2 linked regions of the Homo sapiens genome follow. The protein of the gene in region 1 purifies or fractionates together with the protein of each later gene. This does not show direct contact. Each region holds a gene or a part of one and is shown in the gene's direction. Other genes may lie near its edges.

What was found.
Region 2: the proteins of DDHD2 (region 1) and CP purify together in Homo sapiens (affinity purification with mass spectrometry; one large-scale study listed by BioGRID and IntAct). This does not show direct contact.

The regions. Positions count from the first base shown.
Region 1 is NC_000008.11:38,241,340-38,245,172, forward strand, and holds part of DDHD2 (triacylglycerol hydrolase DDHD2), read left to right. Parts: intron 1-910; coding exon 911-1,046; intron 1,047-3,833. UniProt on the Homo sapiens protein: Diacylglycerol (DAG) and triacylglycerol (TAG) lipase required for proper lipid homeostasis in the central nervous system. It cooperates with PNPLA2/ATGL in neuronal TAG catabolism and hydrolyzes sn-1,3 DAG downstream of PNPLA2/ATGL.
Region 2 is NC_000003.12:149,174,343-149,177,091, reverse strand, and holds part of CP (ceruloplasmin precursor), read left to right. Parts: intron 1-679; coding exon 680-842; coding exon of another isoform or gene 843-854; intron 855-1,211; coding exon of another isoform or gene 1,212-1,228; exon of another isoform or gene 1,229-2,749. UniProt on the Homo sapiens protein: Multifunctional blue, copper-binding (6-7 atoms per molecule) glycoprotein. It has ferroxidase activity oxidizing Fe(2+) to Fe(3+) without releasing radical oxygen species. It is involved in iron transport across the cell membrane.

The DNA.
Region 1 (3,833 bases):
AATGAAACAGTTCTCATGATGCCGACGTTTTGAAGTTTAGCTTTCTTTTTTTTTCCTTTTCCTTTTTTTTTGTTTTTAAATATATTATTTTCTTTCCTGAGACAAGAGCTTTGCTCTGTTGCCCAGGCTGGAGTGTAGTGGTGTAAACTCAGCTCACTGCAACTTCTGCCTCCCGGGTTCAAGTGATTATCCTGCCTCAGCCTCCTGAGTAGCTGGGATTACAGGCGCACACCACCATGCCTGGCTAATTTTTGTATTTTTAGTAGATGGGGTTTCGCCATGTTGGCCAGGCTGGTCTTGAACTCCTGGCCTCATAAAATCCACCTGCCTTGGCCCCCCAAAGTGCTGGGATTACAGGCATGAGCCACTGCTCCTGGCCTGAAGTTAGCCTTCTTTTGATGAAATATTTTGTATGGTAAAAGCAAGTTGTTAGGCCAGGCACGGTGGCTCACACCTGTAATCCCAGCACTTTGGGGGGCCAAGGCAGGCAGATCACCTAAAGTCAGGAGTTCAGGACCAGCCTGGCCAACAGGACAAAACCCCATCTGTACTAAAAATACAAAAATTAGCTGGGCATGGTGGTATGTGCCTGTAATCCCAGATCCTCAAGAGGCTGAGGCAGGAGAATTGCTTAAACCAGTGAGGTGGAGGCTGCAGTGAGGTGAGATCTCGCCACTGCACCCCAGCTTGGGTTACAGAGCAGTACTCCATCTCAAAAAAAAAAAGTTATTAAAGAAACATCTTTTCCTATATGCATTCATAATTTTTCCTGAATACCACTTTATTTTTGACGGAAGTCAGTATGTGTTCTGTGCAAATGTAGTTAGAGTATAATTACATGATTTGTTGCATCCAGATTCTACAGATTTGTTACTTCATTGTTGATGCATAAGTTAATTTTCTTTTCCAGTTAATGATTTTCGCAGTGTTTCCTTGAACTTGCTACAGACACATTTTAAGAAAGCCCAAGAAAATCAGCAGATTGGGAGGGTAGAATTTCTTCCAGTCAACTGGCACAGTCCTTTGCATTCTACTGGTGTGGATGTGTGAGTAATACTTAATACCTTCGAGTTGTTAGCTGTGATTATATTTTCTGATCATTGCTATGCTTGGGGACGTTTTTATGCTATAGCTGACTGAATATTTAAAATTTCTTAGAGATATGCTATTAAATGCTGATCAGTCCCTTGGTTTAATTAGCCCTGGTTAGGAGTGGAGAGCTGTGTGTATCTTCAGTATGTTTTACTGGCTCACTAGTATTTACTGTTACAGCTTCATTGTATCTTTAGCATTAAAGCCAAATATTGCTATCTTCCCATAGTGTATAACCATTTCCATCTTCAGATGTCAAAAGCTAGCCATACCCCAAGATGTACAAAGTATTTTGTTGTTCCTTTTGTTATTATATTTAAATAATATTTGTCCAAATTTAGAAAAAAGGGGGGATTTCTCAAACATTAAACTACTAGCATTTAAAACTTGAGGTATAATTGGTACAGTGACTTTTAAGTGATGGCTTTCTTAAGGTACAAGACCATTAGTTTTGTTTGTAAATTTTATGGTAATGACAGAGAATGTTGCTTAAATTGAGGATATCTAGCTATGGGGCTCTCCAGCAAGTAGTGTGTTTCTAATGTAGTTCTAGAATAGAACCAGGAGATGCAGGAAGTAGTCAGCATTGTTTCCATGCTGGTCTCAGAAATGGCTTTTCTGATTCTGTGTCTCAGTTCTCAGTACCCTGTGATTTGGGTATATTCTGTTTGCCAAACACTGTGGTGGGGTCCGGATTCTTCAATATTTGAGCAGATGCTAAGAGGTTACTAAGGGCACGTAGCCCTTATAAATTGCAGAAGTGGTTGAATATTTGAGGAATCTTTCTGGGAATTTTAAGAAACCTTTAACTGGATGTTAGATTTTGTCAGCGTGGTCTTCCTCTCCCAGATATGAATTCTGTTTGCTTTTGGCACCTGGCACTCACACCTTTTTCTGCTTTTAGAAATTGTGCATTGAGAGAGGGAGCTGATCTCTTTATCGTTTGACCTGTAATTAAAAAACCTTACTGCTGAGAATTCCAGGAAAAGCCTTTTACATTTTTTGTTTTGTCTTTTTAGAAAACTTTTTTTTATTAGAGATAATTTTGTTCACAGAAGTAGTATATATGATGAATCCTTGTATACTGATTACCCAGCCCTAACAAGCCTCAACACATGGCTGGTTCTGCCTCAACCGTATCTTCATACCTTATCTAATGCCCCTTCATCACCATATGATTTTTATCTTAGACATCCTGTAATTTCATCTGTAAATGTTTCAGTTTGTATCTTTTTTTTTTGGTTGGAGTGCAGTGGTGTGATCACAGCTCACTGCAGCCTGGACCTCCCTGGGCTCAGATGATCCTCCTGCCCCAGCCTCCCAAGTACTGCTGGGACTACAGGCATGTGGCACCACTTGCAGCTGATTTTTTTTATCTTTTTTTTTTTTTTTTGAGATGGAGTTTTGCTCTTGTCCAGGCTGGAGTGCAGTGGCGTGATCTCAGCTCACCGCAACCTCCGACTCCCGGGTTCAAGCAGTTCCCAGTCTTGGCCTCCCGAGTAGCTGGGATTACAGGCATGCGCCACCATGCCTGGCTAATTTTGTATTTTTGGTAGAGACAGGGTTTCTCCACGTTGGTCAGGCTGGTCTCGAACTCTTGACCTCAGGTGATCCGCCCGTCTTGGCCTCCCCAAGTGCTGGGATTACAGGCGTGAGCCACCATGCCTGGCCCAATCCAGCTGATTTTTCTATTTTTTGTAGAGATGGGCTTTTACCATGTTGGCCAAGCTGGTTTTGAACTCCTGGGCTCAAGCAATCTGTCTGCTTTGGCCTCTTAAAGTGCTGGGATTACAGGTGTGAGCCACAGTGCCTGGCCTGAACAGTATATTTTATTTTTTATTTTATTTTTGAGATGGAGTGTCGCTCTGTCACCCAGGCTGGAGTGCAGTGGCACGGTCTCGGCTCACTGCAACCTCTGCCTCCTGGGTTCCAGCAATTCTCCTGCCTCAGCCTCCCAGGTGGCTGGGACTACAGTCATGCGCCACAATGCCCAGCTAATTTTCGTATTTCTTAGTAGAGACAGGGTTTCACCATATTGGCCAGGCTGGACTCCTGACCTCATGATCTGCCCGCCTCAGCCTCCCAAAGTGCTGGGATTACAGGTGTGAGCCACTGCGCCGGCCTGAACAGTATTTTTTTTGTTGTTTTTTTTGAGACAGAGTCTTGCACTGTTGCCTGGGCTGGAGTGCAATGGCACAATTTCGGCTCACTGCAACTTCCGCCTCCTGGGTTCATGTGATTCTCCTGCCTCAGCCTCCCAAGTAGCTGGGGTAAAGGTGCACATCACCACACCCGGCTAATTTTTTGTATTTTTAGTAGAGACGGGGTTTCACTCTGTTGGACAGACTGGTCTCGAACTTTGGACCTCGTGATCTGCCCGCCTCAGCCTCCCAAAGTGCTGGCATTACAGGCGTGAGCCACCGCTCCTGGCCCTGAACAGTATATTTTAAAGGACTTAAAAAATGTATAACCATAACACTATTATCACACTTAAAAATTTCTTAATATCATCAAATACCTAGTCTGTTCAAATTTCCAGTTGTCTATTATATTTTTATACATATTTTATACATATTTTTATATACATTAATTATATAATTATATACATTAATTTTTGTATACATATTTATATAATTACAAACATGTTTTAAACTGGGATCCAAATAAAGCCCATACCTTGCAATTAGTTGATATGTCTTTTATTATAAGTCTCTCTTGGGCTGGGCATGGTGGCTCATGCT
Region 2 (2,749 bases), on another chromosome or scaffold:
TACTGATTTCAGCAGAAGCCAGTGGCCCTCCTGGAAATGCTTTTTCCTTATGCTTTGGGCTAATTTAGAAAAGGCAGAAGTTATCAAAAAGCATACTGCAGAAAGCCTGTTTTGTTACCTGCATTTTGTTTTACATAGATATATTGTATTCTTAGTGGGCTTTCAATTCTATCCTTGCAGAAATAGACTATTGTCACCCAACTACTGTTTCCAGCCGAGACTCCCTGAAGTGCCTCTGGTTTTTGTCGTTTTCATCAGCCTCCTTTTCTGCTTCCTTTATTATTTACCTTGACTTAAAGCTTCAGACAAGCTAGGACAGATTCAGGCAAAAGTGAGGCTAGGGCTGAAATGGGGCCACAGCTGAGTTCCTTTTGTGTAGCTTAAGTGCTATGACAAACAGGCAAACCAGAATCAAGGTACAGGAGGTTTGTAGGTAGTCCTGATTGATGAATTCATTCTCATCACATCTTTCTTTCACACCCACTTGATGTGGATACCAAAGACTTATTAGGAATACAAAAACCACATTTTACCATTTGTATTAAACACAGAAACGAGCTCGATTTTTTAAAAACAGATTTATCCATTTTTTCAATATCCCTGAGCTGAACATTAACAAATGACATGAGTGAACTCTCATATACAATATTATACATTATTTGTCATTTTTCTAATTAAGCACAGGGGAGTTTATAGTTCTGATGTCTTTGACATTTTCCCTGGAACATACCAAACCCTAGAAATGTTTCCAAGAACACCTGGAATTTGGTTACTCCACTGCCATGTGACCGACCACATTCATGCTGGAATGGAAACCACTTACACCGTTCTACAAAATGAAGGTGAATATCCAGGTAGTAATTCTAGAAGCCATATATAAAAGATATAACTAAAGGAACTACTTTGCCTAAATACTTCCCCCAATATGATGCATCAATATGAAGCATTTGTGAATCTGCTGCCCTGATTTCTTCCTTCTCTACCTCCAAACAGGATTTTTTTCCTGCTAAATGGTGAGGGATACTGCTCATTTCCTGACAGCCAGTACTTGTAACAGCACCAGTCATTTCTAAGTTAATACAAATGTGTAATTATACTTAAAGCTGATATAAGGGAGTAGTCATGTTATTTACCAAGAAACAAACCATTATTTACATAAGACACATTTAGAATCTAATTTCTTTCTTAACAAAAAACAATTTTTTTTCTAGGTGGCACCTCCATGTAAGAGAAGCCCAAGACAACCCCAAATAATATAATTTCAAATAGGCAGTGTCTTTTCTGTGCTTCCAAGGGGAAGGAGGAACCTTACCGATAATTGTTTGTGAAAGATCCAGGGAAGAAACAAAATTTAAATGCACTGCTCCCCAACCCCTGCAATAACCCTCCCCATGTGTAGGTACACACACACACACACACACACACACTTAAAATGGAGAAAAATGAACAGTTTTTTTGGTAAGATTCCTGCACTGTGGCTGCAGGCTTTGGTCTTTCCTGGGTCTTTCGAGTTGAGGATTGTTGTAATTAGAAATGGTAAATTCAAAGGGAGGAAATTATGTAAAGAAAACCAATCTATGTCTTTCCTCCCTAAAATGGGGAAAAAGGGAACATACAAATGAAGAAAATATAAATGTAAATATATTTGAAGATTTAAAAAGCCCTGAAAGGTTAACCTTTAGTGCAAATGGAAAGTTTTAATTTCTGCTCCTGGGTCTTACACAAACAACTTACATCATGAAAAACTATTTCCATTAATGCCCTTTTTATTAGAGCAGTCACTGATAACACTAGAATATCAAAGACTCTAACAGACAAGCCACTAAATTTAACGCCAATAACTTGAACAAAGTGAAGAGAGCCAAATATGAGAAAGAAAACTTTAGTCTTTAAATAACACTTGCAACCATGTGGTTACATGTGGTTGCATGTAAACCACACAAAAGGATGGTCTTGCTCAAAAAAATAATGGTGAGTAAGTAACATGGAGGCATTTGGGGAATTCATGTGTGCAAATGCCTGGCATGCAGAGTATGGCACTACAGGGTAACCCTACACACACAGCCACAGAGAAGATTCCTCCTGTGTAACAACCGTGAAAGAAGAGGGAGATTACTGCTTGGTTAAGAAAGGCGAGATAGTTTTTAAAGCTATAGTAAAAATTACAGAACAAATAGCAAATATGAAGTAAAAATCAACACTAGATAAAAAATTAAAGAGAAATTTGACTTTTGCAAAGAGAAAAGGTATTGCATGAGACTGAAAGCAGCAGACTGAATAAAAAAAGATAGTTTGAACTATCTTTGGCCCATAAAATCAGTGGCCATGTTTATCAGTCTGAATCATCTTTAAATAAGTCCAATAAAGCTTTGAGCAAGTTTACATTAATTATGAGTCTTAGAAAAGCCTGCTTAGCTTTAAATTTCTTACAGGCAGGGACTATATATTCTGTATTTCTAGCTAAGTACCCAAATCCAATACAATAGTTTGCTTACTGAATGTATAACAACATATTAATTCAATGAAGAGAAACTTTTGAAACTTTTTTGACATAATTTCAGATTCCCATATACCTTTCACCCAGATTCCCCAAATATTAATGATGTGCGTAGCCACATTGGCTTTCTCATTCTTTTCCCTATCTCCCTCTCATGCTCACCCTCTATATGTACACACACAGACGTGTATAGATACACATACAACTATCTTTCCTAAAAACAAGAATATTCTTGTACATGACCACAATACA